3 separate regions of the Homo sapiens genome follow, and all the other regions are linked to region 2. Evidence: fine-mapped expression QTL. A gene starts in region 2. Each other region holds a variant in brackets. All regions are shown on one strand. Distances are from middle to middle.

Evidence for each region.
Region 1: its variant is fine-mapped to the expression of TBCK in whole blood (TOPMed, PIP above 0.99).
Region 3: its variant is fine-mapped to the expression of TBCK in whole blood (INTERVAL, PIP 0.99).

What each region holds. Positions count from the first base shown.
Region 1 is chr4:106,348,721-106,359,535 of GRCh38, reverse strand. AIMP1 (aminoacyl tRNA synthetase complex interacting multifunctional protein 1) reads right to left here. Exons shown (of 7, transcript NM_001142416.2): 7 at 10,080-10,815. GIMD1 (GIMAP family P-loop NTPase domain containing 1) reads left to right here. Exons shown (of 3, transcript NM_001195138.2): 3 at 1,093-2,144. The coding sequence ends at 1,353. Among named protein-coding and RNA genes, the nearest start is that of GIMD1, 15 kb to the left of the region's middle. The variant AAAGTATAT/T (reference allele first, on the strand shown) is at 4,444.
Region 2 is chr4:106,311,181-106,321,995 of GRCh38, reverse strand. It overlaps TBCK (TBC1 domain containing kinase), which reads left to right and starts at 5,787. Exons shown (of 26, transcript NM_001163435.3): 1 at 5,787-6,065. It overlaps AIMP1 (aminoacyl tRNA synthetase complex interacting multifunctional protein 1), which reads right to left and starts at 5,446. Exons shown (of 7, transcript NM_001142416.2): 1 at 5,402-5,446. RefSeq lists enhancers at 5,238-5,487, 5,978-6,037, 6,118-6,207.
Region 3 is chr4:106,171,375-106,176,374 of GRCh38, reverse strand. All of the region lies in intron 22 of TBCK (TBC1 domain containing kinase), which reads left to right. Among named protein-coding and RNA genes, the nearest start is that of TBCK, 140 kb to the left of the region's middle. The variant C/G (reference allele first, on the strand shown) is at 1,917.

The DNA of each region.
Region 1 (10,815 bases), 38 kb before region 2:
TGGAGATAATAATAGTATCTCCCACAAATAATTGCATTAAGCTTCAAAAGAGGTAACGCATGTAAAGTGCTTAGCATAATATCTGGCACTAAATGTTAGTTTTTCTCCTTTCTTTCTTTCTTCTGATTATTAGAGGTCTTGGGTGTTTCTTATTATGTTTATTCCTAGGCATTTTGTATTTTTCTTGCCATAAACTAGTAGTAGCTTTGGAAATATTTTGGTAATAGGAGTGTTCGGAATGGAGGTAATGTTATTTTGTTGTCACATTGTGATTTCATGTAACTTTAGAAATATCCCAAAAAGTTCAAGGGTTATTTCTAGATGCCTTTTATATTACATGAACAATTTGCCACATGCTGTTACTTCTGCTTTATATCAGCTTATATTCACTAATCAAACAAGAATTTATTACATAACCAACTTCCACATATTACTAAACAAAGGAATGCCAGTCTTCAATGTTTTTCAACCACATTAGAGGAAGTCATCAGATAAATTGGGTTCCATTCTAAGCATGTGAAGTCAAGAAGATGAGACTCACAGTTATAATATTTTGTGGTTCGTCCAAATCACCAAATGTATTTTTATCTGAGCTTTTCCATTACATGTCACCTGATTAATCAATAGATTCTTAACAGATTATGTAATTTTATATCTTTAGTAGATGCTTTTAATGATAATGATAAAAGTAAAAGATAAAACAATTCCCTTGACTAAGGTCCTCCGACTTAAATTCAGTGGCTTTAATGGACTCAGGTAGTCAGACAAGTATAAATGATTACTGAATGTTGAGAAATCTATGCAGCAATGATAATATGCAGTTTTGAGGTTGTGTATATATCAATTATCATAGTAAAATAAAAGAGAGAATTTAATTCTCTGTTTAATCCTGCCTTTTTCAGAAAGTCAAGCCTTTTCCCTCCATTTACTTAAAATACTTGACCCTGTCTTCATTTCCTACATTGTATATCAGCTTTCAGAAACATAATAATATGGATCTGCTGGCTATCTATATTGGACCGTAATAAATCCTTTGCTCATTTTTGAGGAATATAGTTCAAGTTCAATAGTTATCTAACTTCTCTCTTTCAGGAACTTCTTGGACATGCTTGGATGAATTACACAGCCATTCTTTTTACCCATGCAGAAAAAATAGAAGAGGCTGGGCTTACTGAAGATAAATATTTACATGAGGCCTCTGATACCCTGAAAACGCTGCTAAATTCTATTCAGCACAAATACGTTTTCCAGTACAAAAAAGGAAAATCACTCAATGAACAAAGAATGAAAATCTTAGAAAGAATCATGGAATTTATAAAAGAGAACTGTTACCAAGTTCTTACATTTAAATAAAATTTAGGTGAAAGGAAAGGAGCATTGGGTATTGGAGTCAGAAACCTAGCTACAAAGAATGCCTTTATTGACATGAATGTGGACCATAAGTATTCTGATATGCTGCTGGTGAGAGTGTACATTGGTATAACCACTTTGGAAAACTAGAAGTTAAAAAGAACATCAATGATTCAAGATTTCTAATGCAAATCCCATGACATAGCAATTACACTCCTAAGTGTATACCCAACATAAATGTGTACATTTGTGTACTAGAAGACATGTATGCACAATAATGTTCATGGAACTACTATTCAAAAGCTAAACATACAGACTATTCAAATGTCTATTAATATTAGAATGGTTAAGTAAATTGTGGTATATTCCCACAGTGGGATATTAGAATAAGTAATTAGAATAAGCAAGCTCAACTATATGTAACGATACCAGTGAATTGCCCAAACATAATGTTGAAAAATAAGCCAGACATAAAAGAGTACATACTCCATGATTCCATGTGCAGAAAGTTCAAAAACAGTAAAACAAATGTAATCTAAACTACTCTGATGGTAGAAGTGCTGGAAATTGGGAGAGTGGTTAACCTTGGGGAGGAGATTGTGAGTGAAAGGTTACACTTGATGTGGCTTCTGAGATTCTGGTCATGTTCTTTTGTTCTCTTGATTTGGAGCCTGGTTTCACAGGATTTGTTCACTTTGTGAAAATGCAACAACAAACACTTGTGATTTATAAACTACTTGTATATGCTATATTTAAATAAAAGTTAAAAATAATTAGTTATTATCCATTAAAAAGGAACTAGCTCCACTGCTTACTTGATGCCAGAAAAGAAAAATTGTTTAAACTTGTCAGAGTCTGTTTCCTTCTTTGGAATACCTACTCATAGTTATTGTAATGATTAAATGCCATGGCACATGGTAGTTGCTTAAAATATGTTAATTTTCTTTTCCACTTCCTTGTAACCTGTGGTTTCTATTTCAGTTTGGAAACATTTGGTAAAAACTCAGAGCAAGCCCTTTAGCAAAAATGAGTATAACAATTGTGATAATTGACTATGAATAAAGCCTTCACTAAAGACCTTCTACCTTTGAAGGTTGGCCACTATGGTTTAGTGGAGAGCTTCAGGATGGTCCCAATGGTAGCAGTGAAAATTGAAGGAAAATAATTCCAATCAGTGATAAGAGTGAAGTCCACCAGCAAGTCAAAATTAGATCACTTTCATAAATATTTGTATATGAACTTCATAATTTATAAAATTTTTTCACAAAGATAGTTCCCAATTTACAGTTTGTTCTTATAAGCCGGTGGTTATTCTCCCAGAGTAGTCTTCAAAAGCCTACTTTAATGCACAATATTATGTGAACTCCAGTACACGTTTGAATTTGTGCTAGATTTATAAAATGTTTCTATAGGAAAGCATAATACAGATTCCAACTTAAAACAACATCTCACTTATTTCTTTGCATGACCTCTTGCTCCTATGCTGTGGGCCCTGGACTGAGAAGTGGGAGACTCAACAATGGGGCAGAGTTTGGAAGTGCAGTGAGAACTGACACTTGCCCCACGGGTTGTTGGGGCTTGGGACAGAGAAAGAGACTTGATGCTAAGAAGTTGAAACAATGGTGACTGGTGGAGAAAAGGAGAATGGAAAAGAATTCAGGTGTTAAGTTCTTCATATGCTTCATTTATGTGTTGTCAGTTAACTTTTCTAGAAAACAAAAACTAGTTCATTTCAGGAAGTATATATGGTGCAGAACATTAAGGATTTAAGCTCTGTGAGGCTGGCCTGATATTGATGATTAATAGAGAGGTGCTTTTAGTCAAAGAGGATTTCTGTGATATTCTTCCCTGAATTATTTATTTTTATATTTGCATATACAGTATCACCCCTTATCTGTGATTTCACTTTCTGTGGTTTCAGTTACCTGTGGTCAATTGCAATCTGGAAATATTACATAAATAAGATTTCTTAAGAGAGAGACCACATTCACATAACTTTTATTACAGTATATTGTTGTAATTGTTCTAGTTTATTTTTAGTTATTCTTGTCAATCTCCTACTGTGTCTAATTTAAAAACTAAACTTTATCACAGGAATGTACATATAGGAAAACATAGTATGTTTAGGGCTCAGTACTCTCTTTGGCTTCAGGCATCCATTAGGGCCTTGGAACATATTCCCTCTGGATAAGGTGTTCCTACTGTGTATACATGTGTGTATATACACACACAGACATTTCCACATAAATACTTAAATGTGGTAGTATTACATACTTTATTTTCTTTTAGCAGTCTTATGTGGCTTTTTTGCTTTGCCTTTACCTCTCTCCTCTTCTCCTTGCAAATCTGCCCATTACAGATAACTGATGCCAACCAAAAGCCTGGTGTCCACTGTTTCTATTTTTCTTCATGTCCAGGTAATCATCCCCACACAGCACATATAAACACATAAAAATATACAGGGCTTTTCAACTTAAAAACAAGTTTTTGTATTACACTCTTCATAATATATTTTTCTTTCACTTTAACACGGTTGTAGGACTTTCTCCTCGTTTCAGCTAAAAACTGGGTTCTTGTCACACGACCAAGAAAGATTAGGCTCATGGACACATAGAAGGGTGAGAAAAACGGAATTTATTGGGTGAAAAACGAAAAAAAGCTCAGCAAAGTGAGAGGGGTTCCTGTTAATGGGACCCCATCTCACCAATTGAATCCCAGGTTACCACCCAGTGACAGGAGAGGCTAGGCTCCTCCTCTCTGCAAACAACAAGAACTTCCCGCGGCTCCACCTTGTCCTCTCTGTGTGCAGGCCAGTTGGAGATTCTCCAGGAGCCCTTTTTACTTGGCTGTCTCAACACCACCTCATTTAAATTTTTCCAAACCTAAAATATAGCCCAAATTCATTCTTTTTAAAGGCTGCAAAACATTTCACAGTGTTTATGTAACAATTTATGCAACTGCTCCTCTGTTGATGAGCTTTCCAGTTTTCTGTCACCCAAAGCAATGCTCAAGCAACTATTCTTGTACATATATTTTTAGTTAATACTATTTTTCTGTAAGTTATATTCCCAAGAGTATATATATAAAAGTATA[AAAGTATAT/T]ATACATTTAATATATCTTAACAGATTCTTTGTAAAAATATTGTGATAAACTTGATTTCCAACAACGTGAGTTGTTTTCTCCCCATCAATGGGTGTTATCATCTTGAACACCTATTGTTAACAAGTTGAATAAATGTAAAACCACAGCCCACTGTTACTTTATTTGCATTTCCCAATTGGAACGATTTTCTGTATTTGGAACATTTTTGTGTAAGCATTTTGGTAATTTAGACTTAGTCTTTTATGAATTGGCTCTTCACATCCTTTGTCCTTTTGTCATTTCTTTTTCTATTGGATTACTTTTTGTTTGGCAAATTGGAAGAGCTCTATGTATGTTACAGATATTAACCCTCTGTCTGTCCTCTGAGTAACAATTGTTTTTTCAAATCTATTATTTGTCCTTTAACTTTGTATGGTAAGTTTTGCCAAACTAAATTTGTGAAATTTTTTATAGTCATATATTTCCGTGTACATGATATAGCTGGTTTTAGTTTTACTTCCTTTCAGATGAGTAACCAGTTGTATTTGTTCTATTTATAAATTCATCCTTTTACTACTTATATGGTAGGTAGGTAGCTAGATATAGAGACTGAAACGTATATCCTGGATCTATTTCTGGATTTATCCTGTATTTTTAATCCTATTCTGTTACCTATTTTATTTATATTGTTCTCAATACCAAAGTGATTTAATTGTAATAATTTTATATCATTCCTTGATATCTAGGAGGTCAAACTTGTTTTCTTTTTTCAAAATATTTTCTGGTTATACTCAGGCATTCATTCATACATGTTCTTAGATTGTTTTTCCTAAATTAAAAAAAAAATATTTTGTGTGTGTGTGTGTGTGTGTGTGTGTGTGTGTGTGTGTATGGTAAATGACACCCCATGATATTAAATCTTCCTTTACAAGGACACAGAATATTACATTATGTTTATTATTTTATATTAGTGTATTTATTGTATTTTTTCTTTTCCTTAGTTTTGCTACCTTGATAACATTGCTATTAATTCAATATTTCCCCTTGATAATTTGGAAGTTCTATTCTAATTCACCCTCATTAAAGATTATTTTCTTGCCCCTGATTTCACAATCATGTACATACTTCTCTGCTATTGCCTGATGACACAGTATGAACTATTTCCCTTACCAAGAATTTCCTACTATTAAAATAAGACCCTTACAATACTTCCATTTCCGCCCTAGTTCTCTTTCTCCTATCCTCCCCAGAAAAGTGGACTTTGGAATGCTTTTCCTTTCACCATATTACTAGATTGTGCTCAGATATTTAATTATTTAATTCAAGACTCCCCCTTGCAGGTTGTCCCTTTTGTTTCAAGAGTCCTTTCTTATAACTTACATTGCATATATCCTGGTAGTTTATCATTAGCTCTTTTAATTCAATATACAAATAGTAGAAGGTCCATATCTTACCACTGTTTTCCTTCCTCTTCATCTTTTCCCATCTTTCTGGTTAGTGTGTTTTCCCAATATACTCTGAATTCTAGTATAATATCCATGAAGCATTAAATTCTAGACATACTCTTCTGTGTACCATTATGCAATAGCAATCCTAGCTTTTCATAAGAATCAGCATAGTGGGTGTAGGGAAATATTTTGTTAGTTGGTAATGGGGATGTTGGATTATATGAATGTTAAGGCACTGAAGTGAACGTCTTGCTGCTGTTCTCCATTTGAGGCTGGTTTGTTCAGCTTTTTCTGGATGACAGTGTGTGCATATTCATTGAATAAACTCATCTGTTCTGGAGGTAATTACAACTTGCAGCTGTTGGGGGCTCAAAAGACCATATTCCAAATACGAGACCTTGGCATGCTGAGTACTTTGAACTGAAGGAGATTGGAGGAGCTTCAGAGGCAAGGTCTTTCTGTCCTTCTCCTGCCCTCCTATGTTCCACCTCTTTTTCCCCTTGAAGAAAGTCACAGAAACCAGAATTTCTTATCCTGAAAGCAAGCCATAAAACTTAGAAAGGTCACTGTCTCCCTTCTCCCTTGATGACCCTCATTCCAGAAGGGTCCTGCCCCATACCCAGGGGAAGGCATGCTACAGACACCAAGAAGAATCTGGATGGCCTTGCTGGGTTTCCCTGACCAGTCTATTACAGTTTAGCACTTTCTCTTTTATCCAATTACATTGCTATATGGCTGTCCATTCTTCAGCAATCCTAGGCACAAAATAGACAGCTTTCCCTGAGTCTTTTGGTCTTCATTTCTGAGGGCTCGTGTATCATGTAAAACTTGGATTAAATACACTTATGTTTTTCTCTTGTCTTTTGTTACAGGAGTGTCAGCTTTGACTCTTAAGATGGGTAAGGAAAGGTATCACATCTTTCTGCCCCTACGCATCTAAAGAACCATGAGACTAGGATTACTTTAAGTAAAATAAGCGATGTCCAGCAAGTTCATCTTTTGTACCCTGCCACCTTTCCTATGAGAGTCTATTATTTGCAATATTTTCTCATGTCCCTCTAGATGCCTAATCTGTATGCTGTTCTCATCCAGACACCAAAAATCTCTACTAAAGCTTAATTTGAAAGTGCTTTGAGTATTTTAGAGGATTGGAAGACAGTGTATCTGATGTTTTTGTGCAGCTAGTGTTAAAGTCTCATTAGTGCATTCAATGTGGGGTCACCAGTGATTACCCCTGCAATCTATCAGCTCTGACTCTTGCCAGGCTTGTTCCTCTAGATACATCACCTCAAACAGCATTTTCAAAGACTTTCTTTTTTAAAGCTATGTTTATCTATATTTTTTATATTAAAATTTTTCTTAGATTTTCTATTCTACTGATTTTCAGATATACTGTACTTCTTTTACATAAAGCTAATGCTTTTATGTGGCATTGCTATTTCCCAGATTCTCACTCCAACTTTGTTTTCAAAACAAATCTCTCCAAAAGTATCTGAAAAGTTTTTGTTTTTGTTTTCAATGTATGTGCAGTTTTAACACAAAAATGTTATCCTTTTATAGGAAAACTGAAAGTTTTCGAAAAAAGTTATTTCTACTGAAATCATTCCCTTTTGCTAAACTTATTGAAAGTGACTTTTAGTTTGCATTTTTCATTAATCTTTTTCAAAGAGAAATACAGTTGTGGTGTTGATTTTGGATGACTCTTGCACTGTTCTTTCCAAATTCCCCAGGTGTGAAAATTTGAGGGATTTTAAATGAACAAGTATCAGCCAAATATGCAATCTGAAAACCAAAGTGCACATATATATTGGGTGCATTTCTCTGCTGGGATGCATGATATTCTAATGAGGCAATTTACAAAAACAAATGTAAAACTTTGTCAGAGCAGCCTTAATATGAAGGTTCATCACAAAAAGGCCATTGAGGAAATAAGACATTAACAATGGCTATTTGAACAATTCTGTAGGCATTATGTAGCAATGGGAAGGGCAAGAGTAGTTAACGCTTCATTAAAAAGGATTTTTCTTTCTTGCAATTATTGGGTCTCAGGCTTGTTTCTGCTCCTGTTGCTAAGGCCAACAGCCTGCCAGATAGGAAATGATGTTGATGAAGACAAAAATCATACTTACACACGTTTTTGTACTTAAACATCTAGAGAATTGGGAATAGTGTGTGTTAGGATAGGTGGAAGTTAGAAAGGAAGGGGAAAAAAAAACCCAAATACATAAGGGTGAAAAAATACAATATACAATAATTAGTTCACACTCTGAAATTCCAGATGGCTCACTTTCACACCAACAATTATTTCATTGTTCTGGGTCCTTCCTCCAAATATTTTTATGGAGTTATACTCCTATGAGTTATCTCTGCCAAGATTTACTCAAAGGAAAAACCATAACTATACAAAGTACAATGCAAAATAATGTGAAGTGACTCTTTCTAATTCCAACAAGTTGGTACCTGAAGATGATTCAGTTTTGTACAGAGGCATATTAGCCATCAGCAACTATCCTTTTCATCATTATTGCAAATTTTGGGGTTATAAGTAGTATCACAATGGAGTATACCTATGTTTCTGTTTTAAATTATCTATCTGTATGGAACTTAGTGACATCTATCATGTTGGCTTTTGGGATGGACTGTCATTACACATTCAGTGCCCTCAATAACAGCGCACTATTCAAAGAATCATGGTATAAACCTCTTCAAAAAGGCAACTGCTACCAGCAGCAGCAGCTTGGTTTTGCCAAGTGAATTCTCCCTATATATTTGAATAGTAAAAAGAAAAAAAATTGATAAATTCTCTTCATAACCACTCCAAAGAGTGTTTAATAATCTCAACTCTCCCTTTAGAATCTCTTAAGTATTCCACTAAAGGAGCTAATCATAAACTACTCAAATTTAGGTATTTTTATGTCACTATTTTTCTCTAACATTTAAAGTAAAGCTAAACTTTTCATTCAAATAAAAGAAACCACATGACCATTTAACTAACATGTTAAGAAAGCATGATGTATTGGAGAACACAGGATCAGTAAGAACTGAAAAAAATTAAACCAGGTTTCAACTTTGTATGGGGCATTTATTTAACTTTTCTGTTGACTCTTTGGGGTAAAATGGCTGATCTACCTCAAAAGGAGCTTTTAAGGGGTGGATAAAACACATGAAAAGACTAGTTAGAAGGCAATAACAATCTTAATAGTAATTCTGTAATAAAATCCATGACAGTAGACATGTATTATTAATATATCACCCTTACATTTGTTAGAGAAGGCATGATTATTCCTTAACTAAAATTTTGGAGGGTAGAGCTTTCTCCATGAGACAGCAATTTGCAACATTATTGCCTGTTGAGCATACTAATTTGCCCTTCCTAGTTCTTTTTATTTTGCATCTTGGTGATAAAGTTGTAATTTTCATACTGCTGGATAGCACTTAGAATCAGGACTTGTGTCACTATTTATGTAGGTGAAATACATGGCTAATGTTATATACTTCTGATACTTTTATATTTTAAAAGGACGTATCATTTCTCTGAAAAATTGAGGAGGTATACTCAGGCCATTTTAATGCCCAGTTATAAGAAACAGCGAGGTGCTCCCCAACTAAGATTTTTTTTTTTTTTTTTTTTTTTTTTTTTTTTTTTTTTTTTTTTTGAGACAGGGTCTCAACTCTGTAGCCTAGTTTGGAGTGCAGTGGTGCAATCACAGCACACTGCAGCCTTGCTCTCCTGGGCTCAAAGTGATCCTCCCACCAAACACTACCCCCTATCGTTGAAATCCTTAAAAACCAGAATACATCAGATGCTGAAGTGTTATGTCCAGTTTGCCAACAATGCTATTTCTTTGTTGATTCCGTAAGAGCTCTCCCATCCCAGCAATACAAATAAAACAGAATTAAGTTTTCTGTGAAAACAAGTACTGAATAGGGCTGAATGGATAACTTGGTCAATGCTTTCATACAACTTGAAAAATCACTGATTAATTCTCCACTTCTTTCTCTCTTTAGCACTCTTTAGCATGGATTTTTACATGGTAAAGACCTGTGGGAATTATGGAGGGAAGCATGGACATTTGTTATAATTTGGTAAGGCATAATATAGTACTTGAGAAAGACAAATGTGACATTTTTGGAATGTACTCTTTTGTAGTAAGTCGTCATAAATTTCAGCACAAATGAGCTACTGATGATGCTACATTATGGGCTTTTAACAAAAGACCAATAGTTTTTATTATCTCTAGGTTTGATGAACGATTTAATCATCAGTTTAGGTTTCACTAACAAAACATTAGATAATTTGATCTGGGGTACAGTATTTCAACATTTAGTTGGGAAAATTTCAACTACCTAGGTAGTTGAAATATTATTTAAATTATATTAAAGAAATTTAATATAATTGAGAAAAATTAGAGCAAAAAACTCACAAAAGACTTTGTCACCAGAAGTATTTATTCCCAAAAGAATGACATATCTTGAGAACAAAGTAACTTTTGAAATTCATTTTGTGTTTAGGTACCAACAATTGTTAATGACGCTCAGTTCATATTTTCAGAATATCACATTGATAATGGTACTATAATATATCCTGGCCTACCAGAGTTCCATGGATTTAAATAAATAAAATTTAATTCTGCCTTTTATAACATGCAGGGTTGTTTTATGGTTGTTGAGTTTTGTGTGAGTGTGTGTATTTGTGTGTGCCTCTCCTTCTTATTGAAGGATTCAGACAGCTATAATGCTAAAATGTTTTGTGTGTGTGTGCATGTGTGTATTTTTAAAACAATGTCTATACTTCTGCCTCTATTGATGCCATTCTTTTGTTGAACCTGTAAAGGTAAGGCCCAGATTCTGAAACCTGGTTAAAGTCACTAATATTTCTCTGTGAGGCCCCTTGTTAGCTACCAGCCCTCCCCTATCCACACTCCCTATCTTGCTG
Region 2 (10,815 bases):
GCCATTTAACCCTTAGCGGACACAGCACATGTTTCAGAGAGCAGGGGCCATTTAACCCTTAGTGGACACAGCACATGTTTCAGAGAGCACGGGGTTGGGGGTAAGGTTATAGATTAACAGCATCCCAAGGCAGAAGAATTTTTCTTAGTACAGAACAAAATGGAGTCTCCTATGTCTACTTCTTTCCACACAGACACAGTAACAATCTGATCTCTCTTTCTTTTCCCCACATTTCCCCCTTTTCTATTCGACAAAACTGCCATCGTCATCATGGCCCGTTCTCAATGAGCTGTTGGGTACACCTCCCAGACGGGGTGGCGGCCGGGCAGAGGGGCTCCTCACTTCCCAGATGGGGCGGCCGGGCAGAGGCGCCCTCCACCTCCCAGACGGGGCGCCGGCCGGGCGGGGGCTGCCCCCCACCTCCCGGACGGGGCCGCTGCCGGGCGGAAAGCGGAAACGCTCCTCACTTCCCAGACGGGGCGGCTGCCGGGCGGAGGGGCTCCTCACTTCTCAGACCGGGCAGCCGGTCAGAGACGCTCCTCACCTCCCAGACGGGGTGGCGGCGGGGCAGAGACACTCCTCAGTTCCCAGACAGGGTCGCGGCCGGGCAGAGGCGCTCTTCACATCTCAGACGGGGCGACGGGGCAGAGATGCTCCCCACATCCCAGATGATGGGCGGCTGGGCAGAGACGCTCCTCACTTCCTAGACAGGATGACGGCCGGGAAGAGGTGCTCCTCACTTCCCAGACTGGGCGGCCGGGCAGAGGGGCTCCTCACATCCCCGACGATGGGCGGCCAGGCAAAGACGCTCCTCACTTCCTAGACGGGGTGGCGGCCGGGCAGAGGCTGCAATCTCGGCACTTTGGGAGGCCAAGGCAGGCGGCTGGGAGGTGGAGGTTGTAGCGAGCCAAGATCACGCCACTGCACTCCAGCATGGGCAACATTGAGCACTGAGTGAGCGAGACTCCGTCTGCAATCCCGGCACCTCAGGACGCCGAGGCTGGCAGATCACTCGCGGTCAGGAGCTGGAGACCAGCCCGGCCAACACGGTGAAACCCCGTCTCCACCAAAAAATACAAAAACCAGTCAGGAGTGGCGGCGCGCACCTGCAATCCCAGGAACTCGGCAGACTGAGGCAGGAGAATCAGGCAGGGAGGTTGCAGTGAGTCAAGATGGTGGCAGTACAGTCCAGCCTCGGCTCGGCATCAGAGGGAGACGGTGCGGAGAGGGAGAGGGAGAGGGAGAGGGCTATACTTTTCTTAATTTAAAAAATTACTTGTACCTGATTTCACCTCCTACTTCCTTGTCACCTCCTTTCAGGGCTCCTTTTTTTTTTAATCTGTCCCATTAATGATGCTGTTCTTCAGGGTTTGGTCTTAATCACTAATCTTTTCTAGGGATCACAAACTAGCCTGACAAAGTTCAGGGATAGCTTTCTTTTCCAGGGCTAACAGTGTTGGAAATAACTGATGTGAATGTCTTTAAGTAAGACAGACAGACACTTTACTACTCCCTGTTGTCTGCCATTTATATTACCTACCAGGCTCCTAAAATAAGTTCATGACCCCAACTTTACACTCCCTGATTTTGTGTCATGTGCTGGGTTTATAGTAGAGAACAAAAATAAACATGTTCTTTGAACTAACTAAGCTTTCAGACAAATGGGGGAAACACAGTTGAAGACATTTTTAAAATAATGTTACGCTTAGGGCACAGTGATAGTTTAACAACAATACTGCTTAAAGCTCAAACAAATCTTTTACCATTCAACCCAGTGCTCATTTCATTAATCTCTATGCTAATTACTCCCCTGTGATTTTTCAATTTTACATTGAGTATAAGTCAACCTTCAAAATTTTAAATCCTCAGAGTTTCTAATATGTATAAAGTTTCTCATAGATGATAATAACAACTACATATATTTGTAGAACATGCGCTATGGCTGGCTAAATGCTTTACACAAGTCAATTTCGAATACTGTAATAATCTCCATTATACAGAGAAGAAAACTTGAATTAAAATTAATTTGCCTCATGTAATACATAGTAAACGAGGATTGAAACTCAGGTCTGTCTGATGCTGCAGTTAGCTCTTTTAATGCTCTAGCTATAATTTCTCTAAAGGATATAATTACGAAGCATTTTCCAATATATTTAATGACAGAATCCTAACACAGGAACAGCTATTAACATTTATTTGAACTAGTATTCTCTAAAACAGTTTAGGAAATGCTAGTTTAAGTCTCTGGACTAAAATGTAAAAAAATTAAGACTGTGAGATTAAAATAGATATAAGAATGACATGCACAGTAATTGAAAATATAAAACATTTATGAAGAGAGAAGCACAGAAAACTGTAGACCAAGTATGTTAATTGTGTTTGGTGAGGATCAAGACCTTTTCTTTTTCCTTTACTAAATTAAAATGGTAATAATGCATTTTTTAGGACAAAAGCTTTTGAAACATATTATCTAAATCATTCTGTCCCTTCACATTAATTTTGTCCTTCTCAATGTTAATTATCATACTTCATCAAACCTAAAAAGCCATTAATCATACGATGCCTCTAATGCAGAATCCCAAATACTGTACATGAATTTATAGTACATCTTAATCATTAAAATACACACACAAAAGATGATTTTTGAGATTCTGAGATCTTCACTATCATTTTTGTTTACTGAGCAATTTCCTCAGTAGTCCTCCCCACCCACACCATCTAAATTGCCTGCAATCTTTTTGAAAAAGCAAAATCTCTGCCCCACGATGACAACATTGGGAATCAAACATAAGTAAGTTACTACTTTGAAATCAAAGTTTTACAGGCAGACTTTTAATTTTAGAATTCTTATGCTATATAGGAACGCTACACAAATTTGAAAGTGTCTCTACTCAAAACCTCTAATTTCCCTATTTCAGAATTACAGTAGGTAAAAATTTACATTTTTGTTGGAAGCTTTAAATACTATACAAGAAATCTAAAATGCCATCAATTGTAAAATGGCTTCAATCCCAAGAAGCTCTATTATTTTATGTACATTATGAAAAAAAACACTATTGAATCAACTGACCCAATGCTTTCTTATTACTTAGACACATCCTATATTATTTATTGACAGACTTCTTTTAAATTTAACCCTGGATTTTTATCTTGTATCACCCTTTGTTTCCCCACATACACAGTAACTTTTCATTCTAATGCTAATCATAATCTTCTAAATGATCTTTAAAAGGGAAATTACACTCAACAACTATATGCCAATAGTGCATATATAACTCAACTGAAATAATGACAAGATTAAGTTATGACTAAGTGGGTGTAAGTGTGGGCAATGACAAATATCTCACAACTGCCAATTCATCTACAGTGATTTAAAGATGTCAACAACTTAAAAATACATCCCTATTTCAGAGATGTTAAGTAAGAGAAAAATGTGTATCTCAGAATTGATGGAATATAGTAATTTTAATCATTTTCTTCCTTTCTTCTCCTCCCTTCATTCCTATTCTTGCCTTCCAACTTCTTTCCCTGATTTGCTACACAATCTAATTACTGGATATGTAAAAATATTATAGTATACATAAAATACCCCACACTGAAAGACCGTCCTTATTATAGTGTAAAGCAATGTGGTACCTTTTAGCACTAGGTGAAAATTCCTGCTAGGATTTAAATCATATGTGTCAAAAGTCAGAATTTAAAGAAGAAAATTAAATACACTGAGAACAATGCATCTGAAGACACTCAAAATATGTAAGCGCAGCAACCAGCAGTAATTCCCTAGGTCTTTTATCAACCTTTGCCAAAACCTATAAAAAGAATATCTAAAATTGCTTTTTTATGGAAGTTCCTATTTCCCTTACCAGACAGCCTGCTTTCCCTTTACTGATGAGGACATAGGGGGTCCTGGAGGGTTTAAAGGATGGCTATAAGGAATGACTATAGGGTGGACAGCTATGAGAGGCCAGTCCATGCATTTCTAAATACCATCGTCATTAACACAAAAACTTTCCTCCCCAGTACAGAGTCCATAAAATTTAAAAAGGAGTATGCCTTGGCCTCCCATGACCCTCTTACCTCACAATAAGGCCATCTTTTACCTGGTTAAGATTTGCAGACTAGACCCATTACATACCTTGTCATTAAATACCTATAATATACCCTAACCTTTGCAATCTTGACAGATGTGATTTCCATTTTATAGACAGATCCAGGAAAATTACATGACTTATCTGAATCCCTTCAAGTACCACATAGCAAAGCCATGATTTTAACTTGTGTTTGCCACTCTGAAACTCACACTGGAATTCATTTTTCAAGTGTCCTCCAAAGCCTAATTAAATAAAATTAACCCTGTCATCTATAATACTCTTACATATCCAAATTAAGTGCATCAAGAATATAACTGGCCATTTCTTACCACCCATAGTCAAACCACCATTATGCTTCCTCTGGATTATTGCAAAACTCTTCTTATTGGTCTCCTTTCTCCTACCACGTCCTCCTCTGTGTATTTTCCTTAAAGAGTGACCCTCTTAAAAGGAAGTCAGAGCCCATCACTCTACTGCTCAAAACGCTCCAAAGTCCTATTTCATTTAGAATAAAAGTTAGATGTCCTCAAGATCTTCATGACCTGCTCGCCTTGATTTAATCTCCAGTGAAGGACTAAACCCTTCACTCAACTCTGCCCTACAGGCCTCCTTGCTATTCTAGCACGTTTCTGCTTCATGACCTCTGCAATGGCTGGTCCCTCTGTCTGACTGCACTTTCCCAAGATATTCGCGTGGTTAAATCTCCCACTTCTGTCAGCCCTTTACTTAAAAGTCATCTTTTCAGCAAGACCTTCCTGTGTCACTTTATACCCTTCTTCCCTGCTTTACGTTTCTCTTCAGGACTATCACGACCTAAAATACAGTATGTTTCTAATTACTTTGCTTAGTATGTGCCTTCCTCTCTAAAATGTGAGCTACAAGTAGACACAGATTTCCGTCTGTTTTGTTCACTGCTGTTCACCTAATGCCTAGAACGGTGTCTGGAATAGAGTGGGCGCTTAATAACTATTCGCTCAATGAATAAATTCCTGTCTTCACCCTCCTCTCCCCCAAAGCACCTAAGTCCTTTGACACACACATTCACATAACAGTAAATACGCTTAGGGATCGATATTTTTCTGTAGCATTCTTAACTTAGGCCTGCATCCCATTTCTCAAACGTGGCTCCTTTAGAAGGAAGTCTCAAACTCTTTCCTGTTTCCTTAGGCCAGGGCTGGTCCTGCTGCGAACGGACTACCCATTAGCAGCGCAGGCCAGGTCCTCTCTCCTGGAGGCAAGTTAGAGAAGGAAGACCCCTACGATCGCAATCGGCGATCCCCGAGTGAGTGACCCGCCACGACGTCACTCACATGAAGCGGAGGACCACGGGTTCCGAGACAGCCACAGCAGGAAGCATGTAGGTCCAGCCACCCGCGTACTATAGCAGTGAGAAAGGACCCAATGAGGTGTCCTTGCTGAAAGCCTGAGTGTTCTACAGATTCAACCCTCAATTCTTTCTTCCTCTTCCTGTGCTCAGTCCCATTAACCTGCCATACCACGCTCCTCGTCTTCCATTCCCTCACCCAGTATTTTCAATCGACCCCCCCCGTCCCCCCGCACCTCTTTCTCTCTCGCTATATGTCCTTTCGTGGCCAGTTTGGGCAAGGGGAAGGACACCACAAGTCGGGGTCTTTCCTCAGCGTTGGGTCGCGGTGGCTGTGAGGGCGGAAGAAAAGGCCAGGCTGAGGGGAGGGTAGAGGGTGAAAAGCTCGGATCTGTGTTTGGGGAAGGCCAGGCTTGCGCTCCTCGCCGGGTTCCGCGAAGGTTAACCTTGGCTGACTTGGCTCGCGAGCAAAGGGCAGCGTCTGAGCTCCCGGCGTTCCAGGAGTGGCCTCTTTTGTAGGAGCACCTGAAATGCAGCGTCTGGTGCACTAAGCCGTAGCGGCAGCAGCAGCCACAGCGACAGCGCTGGGGCCCTGTGTAGAAGCTCCATCCCCCTTGTCTTTGTGCTTGCCTGCGTCCCCAGACTCAGAGGCAGGTATTTGGGTAATCCAGTTTTCCGTGTCGTAGTGGGTGGGGTCTGTGGGAGGTAGAGGACTATCAGGAGCAGTGAGTGGCCCCGCATGTCTTCAGAATAGATAGAGAACCGAGCTGTGGAGCCGCTTGCTGATAGGTACTGTCTCCATCCCTAGCTACAGCCCGCCTTTCCTGTAAATCAGGTTCACCTGAGTCGTTTGGGAACCGTAGGCTTAGTAATCGCTCTGTCACTGCCTCAAAGGAAGGCTAAAGGAGGTTAGAGAATCTAGAATCCGCCCCTCCATTACTCACCTTGGAGGCAGAATTTTGCTTTGGTTTGTTTCTGGCCCTCGAGGTTTAGTCAGTCGTCAAAGTGTAACACCCCCTTGAGCAGTAGGAGAAAGTGAAGCAGAGGAAGGAAGTTACTTGAGGATTGTCAGTGGCTGCTTTTCAAGGATCCCTGTCCTGGTTTCTATCTATTTGAGACAAAAATAACCTCTTGAGAGAATGTATATATAAAATAAATGAATTAGTATCATTTTCCTGTTGAAGAAATGTGAAATTTTATTCATGATAAAATCGGCGTCTTTTGCCCTATTTTTTACTTTCTTTCCCCATTCGAGTCGTTTAAAACTCTAAGTTCTTTGAGGGCACAGAGTCTGACTTGTTCATTATCCTTTGCCCACCAGCTGGAAAAACAACTGACTTAAAATAGGGGCTTCAAAATATTTGTTGAATGAATGAATTTTCAAGCCCAACTGCTTGCACTGCTGTTTCCCTCATCTAATCTCTCATCTCTACGTTTTTTTTCCCCCGGTAGTTTTCTTCCACTCACGAGGTGTAAGTGAATGTATGTGTGTGTATTTTTGTGTGTGAGCCTTTTTATGTACAACCATTTAAGAGGTAGTGGAAAAAGAACACTGATTATGCTAATTAGTGTTTTATCTTTTTCGATCATTGTGTTTTATTTGGTTATTTTATTTTCAGCTATGTGATGATAAAGACATCTGATTGAAAATAAAATGGTCGGGCGCGGTGGCTCACGCCTGTAGTCCTAGCACTTTGGGAGGTCGAGGCGGGTGGATCACCTGAGGTCAGGAGTTCAAGACCAGCCTGGCCAGGATGGTGAAACCCCGTCTCTACTAAAAATACAAAAATTAGCCGGGCGTGGTGGCGGGCGCCTGTAATCCCAGCCACTCTGGAGGCTGAGGCACAGAATCGCTTGAACCCGGGAGGTGGAAGGATGCAGTGAGCCGAGATCATGCCACTGCACTCCAGCCTTGATGACAGAGTGAGACTCTGTCTCAAAAAAAAAAAAAAAAAAAAAAAAAATCAAGTAGTATAGCGTAGTAGGATTGAATAATAAAGTGCAACTGTCTCACCTGTCCTACTCTCAGTACTGTTCTTCAAAGATAACCACTTTTAACCTTTTCTAATTTTAGGTCTGTAGGTTAAATAATAAGTTAAACTGTTAATTCTTTTTGTTGACTTCTTGAGATAGCCCTAAGTTGAACTGCTAATTCTTTTTCCGTTGACTTCTAGAAATAGCCCACACCATTCACAATCTCCTCTGAATTTTGGAAGAGTCATAATCATAATTTTTAGTTTTTGTATTGGTTACTTTATAATTCAAAATAATATACGTAAACTACTTTTTTCACATCAACTTTTGAAAATATATTTGACTCCTTGTTTGGTAAAACGAGAAAAGTAGTGATTCTACCTTTTTCTTTATCACTTCAGAAACTACATTTATGCCCACTTTCTCTTAGCTGGACATTTACTTGTACATTGTCAAAGTTAGTAATATATTTCTTAACTATAACATTTGCGCTTTATTCACGTGCCAAAAACCAATAAAAAAAATAAAATGTTTACAGTATTATGGCTTTATAGTTGTTACTTAGAGCAAGTCCAAGCTGTATGCTCTGATATGTTTTTTTCCCCAGAGTTTTAACTTCATGATCCCTGTGCCATACTAAGGAGATTATTTATGATATCAAGGTCAAATGGGTTTTTATTTCTTTCCTGCCAAGGGCAAAATATGCTGTAGTTGAGCATGCTTTATATTTTGGAGTATGTAATACATAGTTTTTAACCGTCCCCACTTTCTTAATTGCCTTTCTGCTTTCTCCTGGGGAATAGGTAGGTGGATGTGCTTTCTTCACTGAATCTTCTCATTCTTTGTATGATGCACATAGAAGCAAGCTTCCATTCCTCTGTTTGAAGATTTTCCCCTTAAAGCCCAATGGCTTTCTGTTTAATTTGAACAGATTGCATTCTAGTCCTTTTGTATTGCTCCTATCCTGGGCTTATATTCATTCTTGGGTAAATAACATTGTTTCTTAGCCCCTCATCTTCTGTTATTGGGCTTCCCCCTATTTCCCTGGAATATATCCTAAGGAAACTTGCTCACAAAAGGCAAGTGAAAGGTAATTTTATTTTTTAATGTTCGTATAGCTGTAAATTATAATTTGCTCTTATGACTGATAATTTGGCTGTATATAGAATCAAAAGTATTTTCCTTCAACTCTCAATCCTTCCATGTCTTCTAACTTTTTTTTTTTCCTTTTTTTTGAGCTGGAGTCTCACTGTGTTGCTCAGTCTGGTCTGAAACTCCTGACCTCACGTGATCCTCCCACCTCAGCCTCTCAAGTATCTGGGATCACAGGCACAAGCCACTGCACCAGGCTCTCTTCTGACTTTCATTATTGCTGATGAGAATGCCAGTCTCACTTTAACTTGTTGATAGCAGAATCAGTTTTTTCTGTCTGAAATGTTTACAATTTTCTAGTTACGTTTGATGCTTTGAAAATGTATAGCAGTGTTTATCTTCTCATAAGCTGTTTTATTTTGTGTGAGATAAAATTTGATACATATTAAAACACATTGATTTTAAGTGGCCAATTTAATGAGTTTTGATGCATGTACTCATCCATAAAACCACTACCACCACAATCGAGATAGAGAATATTTCTACCACTACAGAAAGTTCCTCTGTTTCTCTGCTTATTCAACCCCTCTCCCCCATCTACAGTACTATCTTCTGATTTTTTTATTAATACTATAGTTTAGAACTATAGTTCTGGAATTACATTTAAATGGAGTCATACAGTATGAACTCTTTTGTGTCTGCTTCTTTCATAAACTTTATGTTTTTGAGTATATCCATGTTTTGACATGTTTGTTCCATTTTTGTTAAATAGAATTTCATGGTACAAATATGTTAATTGATTCACTTATGGGACATTTGCATTGCTTCTGGTTTTTAGCTATTAAGAGTACAGTTCCTATGAACATACTCATACAGTGTTTTTTTTTATGGACAAATGTTTTCATTTTTCTTGGTTAAAGAGTGGAATTTCTGAGTCATAAGTTAGGGATATTTTTAACTTTAGAAAAGTTTTCCAAATATTTTCCAAAATTCTTTTGCCATTTTACGCTCCCACTAGCAATATAGCAAAGCTCCACTTCCACATTCTCAACACTTGTTACTGCCAGTCATTTAAATTTTAGCCATTGTAGAAGTTAAAGGTTTGTCATTGTGATTTTCATTTGCATTTCCCCCAATTAATGATATTAAGAACTTTTTCATGTGCTTATTATTTTCATGCCTTGTGTGAAAATATGTTTGTGACTTTTACCTATTTATGTATTGGCTTGTTTTATTATTGAATTGTGGTATTTCTTTATAGACTCCGAATACAGGTCAATTATATACAGACACACATATGTTTGATTTTAAAAGGTCATATATATACATAATGTCATATGTATATACAGACAGATGTAAATAATATTTCCCTTTAACTCGAATTTTTATTTTCTCAGGGGTGCCTTTGGATATGCAGATGTTTTTAATTTTGATGAAGTCTACTTTGTCAAAATTGTCTTTTGTGGCTAGTGCTTTGTTCTATTGTGTCTAAGAAATCTTTGCCTAGCCTAAGGTTGTAAAGATATTCGCTTATGTTTTCAATTAGAAGACTAACAGTTTTACCTTTTACGCTTAAGCCTATGTTCCATCTTAGATTTTTGTGGATGTATCAGTAGAAGTTGAGGTTATTATTTTTTTATATGAATATCTTTTTCCAGCACCATTTGTAAAAAGGACTTTCCTTTTCCTGTTGAACTCTTTTGCTTTTGTTGAGAATCAATTTATTTTATTTAAATTCTTTTAATTATGAAATATGTGGTATTAACACACACATATGTAGATAAATATAGATACAGAGCATGGAAATTACCAAGCATAATGATAACATGAACACCCATTAATTCACCAGCTAAAAACTAGGCTATTACTCAAGATTTTTGAAGCTTTTTATGAATTTTTCCCTAACCTTACCCCACTTTAATTTGGTAGTAACCCATATTCTGAGTATTTTTTTTAAATTCCCTTACTTATTGAATATATTCTTACAATAGATATAAGTATTCCAGAATTATTTGTTTTATTTTTTGTTTTTGAGTTTTATGAAAACTGGAATATTTTATGTTACTTTTTTCACTCAATATTATATTTCTAAGATTCATCTATGCTATTAAATATGGCTATAGTTTGCTTATTTTTCATTATGTATACAGGTGAATAAAGCACAATTTATTTAACCATTTACCTACCATTGGACATTTAAATTGTCTCCAGCTTGGGGATATTAGGAGCAATAATACTGCCTTGATCTTTCTTGCACAGGTCCACTCTGTGTGTGTGTGTGTGTGTGTGTGTGTGTGTGTGTGTGTGTGTGTGTAGGAGTTTCTGTAGGAATAT
Region 3 (5,000 bases), 140 kb after region 2:
TTGAGAGTAGATTGATAGTTGCTAGAGGCTAAGAAGAATGGGCTGGGGGATGGGGATGAAGAGAGAGGTTGGTTAATGGATACAAAATACAGTTAGACCGAAGGAATAAGCTCTGTTGTTCAATAGACAGCACAGTAGGATGACTATAGTTAACAATAATTTGTTATATATTTCAAAATAGCTAGATTTAAAATGTTCCCAACATAAGAAAATAAATATTCGAATTGGTAGATGTTCTGATTACCCTGTTTTGATCATTACACATTGTATGCATATAGCAAAATATCACATGTATTCCATATTTAATTAATACATAAACTATGTACAATTTTATGTATTAATTTAAAAATAACAGTAAAGTAGAAAAACCAAGCCATCTTCATGTTTTGTTCAAGTCTTTATAGGCAAAGTTTGGACCCTAGTCAAAAAAGGGCTCTAAGGAGCCTGGCTAGACTTTGGTTAAGGAGAGCATCTTTGTCAATACCCAGAAGTTACTTCAGATAACAAAAATATGACCTATTAAACCAAAGTAAATATGTTCAGCTTACTCTTAGTTATATGTAGAGCATGCACAGCCATTGTAATGTTGCCCAATATCAAGGAAGTATAATGGAGAGAATTTGGTGTAGAAAGAGGCAGCATTCTTCATTGTTGTGGTTGAAATATTTTTACTTTGTCAAATTTTACAAAAGTGACCATTTTAATGGTAAATATGGAGAGGCATTCTCTGGAGTAGTAGAGTCACTGAGTCTTGAGACTCAGAGCCAATAGGCATAGCAGAGAGCAGGAGTGAGTGAATGTATATAGTTATACAGGCCCCTCCTATGGTCATATCTGGGAAGGCTGGCAAGGATGAGCTTAGAAGATCAGAGAATTATCTGGAAAAACTCAATGTTCCCAGAAGGAGAAATATCTTACTTAGGAGTCTTCTAACAAAATAACCATGTCCCCAAATTACCTTATAGTTAATCCACCAGTCACTAACCCCAGCCCACATAAAAAAAAAAAAAAAAAAATTCAATCTGATTTTTGGTGCTGTTCTTGTAAATATGTAGAATCAAAGATCACAAAATCTCTGAGGAAAGCTTCCAATTAAGATACAGAATAGTATAAACTGAAAAAATAATTTATTCAGAAAGATAACTATGAGAAAATTAACTATGAAAAAACAGAACTTTTAAACATAACAATGAAAATTGTTGAAAATCTGGAAATTGATTTTTTTTTCTTTTTTTTTTTTTTGAGAGAGTCTTGCTCTGTAGCCAGGCTGGAGTACAAGCGTGATACAGGCGTGATCACTGCTCACTGCAGCCTTCACCTCCCAGGTTCAAGCAATTCTCGTGTCTCAGCCTCCTAAGTAGCTGGGGTTACAGGTGCACTCCACCACATTTGGCTAATTTTTGTATTTTTGTTTAGTAGAGACAGGGTTTCACCATGTTGGCCAGGCTGGTCTCAAACTCCTGGCCTCAAGTGATCCTCCTACCTTGGCCTCCCAAAGTGCTAGGATTATAGGCATGAGCCACCGTGCCTGGCCTGGAAATTGAAATTGATATAGAAATGCAATGATGTTTGTGATGAAAATGTAAGATGATAAAATTTAGGAAATCTCACAGAGTATGAAACAAAAATACACGTGGAAAGTAAGAACAAAATGACAAAATTATTAGAAATTAAATTCAGGAAGTTCAAGATTCTTATAGAATAGAAGATTTAAAAAGAAACAAATTATCACAAACATCAAAAACATACTTTTTGTGTAACTGAAGGACTACTCAGGGATCCACCAAATGCCCAGCACAATGAAGTATATGCGTAAGTATATCACCATGAAATTTCATAATACAGGGATCCTAAAACTTAACAGAGAAACAGAAAATCATGTACAAATAATCCTAAATCAGAATTTTATCAGACTT[C/G]TCAGCAGCAGACATTGGAGCTCTACCTTTAATAACTCAGAAGAAAAAAATTCAACCCTAGAATGCTGTATCTGGTCAAACTATCAGTCAAGGGCAGATTAATGATATTCATTGAAGGTTTTTGAATAGTTTACCTCCTGTGTACTCTTTCTTTGTAGCTGCTGGATAATGTGTTTCATCAAAATGAGAAGTAAATATGAAAGAGTGGTAAATAATGTCTTACCCAAAAAGTTAGGAATCAAATATAGGGGATAGCCTAAGAGAATTGGATAATGGTAAAGAGAAGTTCCAGGACAATAGCTATGCAATAAATTTCAGAAGGAATTTATAGCCATTAAAGTGAGAGAAGAGCAGGCTCAGGAAAGCTGTCTTTTCCATCTATCCTTGCCCAAATGGTTGTGTTTATCATATTGAAAATAGTTCAGTATTTCTGAAAGATCTAATACTAATGGGTGCCAATGAAGAAATTAATAGATTTAGAGAAGTTATTTTACCCAGAGTTGCAAAATACCTCATGGAGCTTTAATTCAAACCTGGGAAACCATAATCCATGTTTTATTCACAATGCATTGTCTCAATAATTATAATGCAAGGTTAAAAAACAGTAGTGCCATGTAATGAGAGATTACTTTGTAGGAGTAATTGTGCATTTTAATGTACACTTCACAAAGTACTTTTGCATTATATTTTGATTATGATAATGTGCTTTGGAAGGGTTTTGAGATGAGAGGTGACATGAGTCAAGTGAAATGGAAAATGAGATATCTGTTAGAACTAACCATCAGGGTAGAATCGGGATGGATGCCAGTACATCATCAAGATTCACTGTAAACCTTTTATGGTGTTGATGGGATGTCTTGGAAGCAGATAAAAATAACTTTTCCAATGCCAGTGATTGAAGGACTGCACTACAACCTTTACTCTAGATCACTGACTCACCTTCAAACTTTGCTGGTGACAGATGTGTCAAATTGATTTGAGCCCTGCAAATACAAAATCTATGGACTGAAACCCTTTCCTTTGGAAACTAAACTGTGTTAAGTAGACAGACTTTAGATGGTTGAGTATTTTCTCTCATTAGCTGCCAAATTTTTATCTTAACTATTTGAATTGAAAGTTTTCTAAAATGAATTGTGCTATCTCTTTTTTCTTAAACAGGCTAGAGAAACCTGTCTTAAACCTTGATTTTTCTTCTAGTTTGTGTTTGTATTTTCTTTGTGAAATAACAAGTTGATATTGTTAGAGAGCTTCACTATATTATCCATTGCCCAAATAAATAGGCCCATGCCTCAAAGCTTGTTTCACTCTGTTTTATAGTTTTTATATTAGGAATAGCATATGAGGTGATGAAATCTGACCTCTTTTTGTAGCCATGGAAGTAATGAGCTGTGAAGTTGGTAAACATCACTAAGGAATGCCTAATTGAGTAACTGGTCTTATCAGACTATCTTTTCATATTCCAAATCTAAGTTAGGAAGTAACAAAAGATGCCTTATAACCTTATAGTAACTTCAGACTTCTACTCATAGTAACATACTTAACAAATCACTTAACTTCCTTGTGTCTTAGTTTCTTTGTCTTTAGCAGAAATAGAAGGTGGGAAGAAGAATTACGATACCTGTCTTTAATAAAATCATTGTAAGAATTAAATGGATTAAGTGAAAGTATACAATACCTGTCACATAATAGATGGTCAGTGTTACCTTCTTTTTCCCTCTTCCAGATTTCTTCACCTTACCACAGCAGATAACTCTAAATGATTACTCATGCACTATCCACAGAATTTACTTAATGCCTATTTCCTTTTCCCCTTACAAGCCCTTCATTTCAAAAAGAGGGGGAGAAAAAAAGAACTTACCACTTTCTGACATGTAATATATTTTTCTCCATTGCCTGCCTGAGCCCGACACTTGGACTTTTACAGAGGAAATGAGAATATATGCCATTTGTACTTTTAGAAATATGGAAAGATAAAAACTAGTCAGTGCTAAACTCCATCACAGTCAACTTCTTGAATTTCTCCGCCTTTCTGTGATCTTTCTACTTTCGCCATAGAGGACTGGCTAACTTCTCATCAGGACTGTTGGCCTCCTAAAGAGATACAGTCTCATCCAAAACACAAACAATATAGAGTTGTAGTAACCTTTCTATGTATATTACCTCTGCATTAAAGATGCTTACATTTCAAACATGAGAAACAAAAGGAAATCTAATATGAAAGTGTTTCTATTTTATCTTTTAGTCAAGTGCATTTAAACCTTACTTGATTAAACTTTAAAACCTTTCTTCATTTAACTCAAGAGATTATTAAAGAATGGAGAAATGCTAGTTGGGCATGGTGGATGATCCCTGTAACCCTAGAATTTTGGGAGGCCGAGGCAGGTGGATTGCCTGAGGTCAGGAATTCAAGAACAGCCTGGGCAACATGGCGAAACCCCATGTCTACTAAAAATACAAAAAATTAGCCGGGTGTTGTGGCATAGGCCTGTAATCCCAGCTTCTAGGAAGGCTGAGGCACGAGAATTGCTTGAACCTGGGAGGCCAAGGTTGCAGTGAGCCGTGATTGCACCACTGCACTCCAGCCTAGGAGACAGAACAAGACTCTATCTCAAAAACAGGAAAAAAAAAATTGAGAAATGCTGAATTGAGATTCTGAAAAATTTTTTCTGATAATTTTATATCTTATTTAATGGCAGTAAAACTGTCAGTTCACTTTACTAGAATTCATTCTGAATCAGCAATCAACATCTTCTAAATCTTTTGTCTACCTATTCCCAAATTGTATTCTCCCCCTATAACTTTTGTTTCACATTGGAAAAGTGGAAACATCAGCATAAATTTGGCAGATTTTTAAATAAGGAGATGTGTTCTATTCTGTGGCATTTAAATAATGATACTCTGAAATATATACATATGTATATGTAGATAATTCCAAGTAAAAGACACACATGAAAACATAAGTAGATACATTTACAAATATATATAAGCAAATTATACCAAATATTTCCATCAATCCAGTCATAAATATGCTGATTAATATATACATTGTTTTTTTTACTGACATTTTTTCTAATAACTTATCAT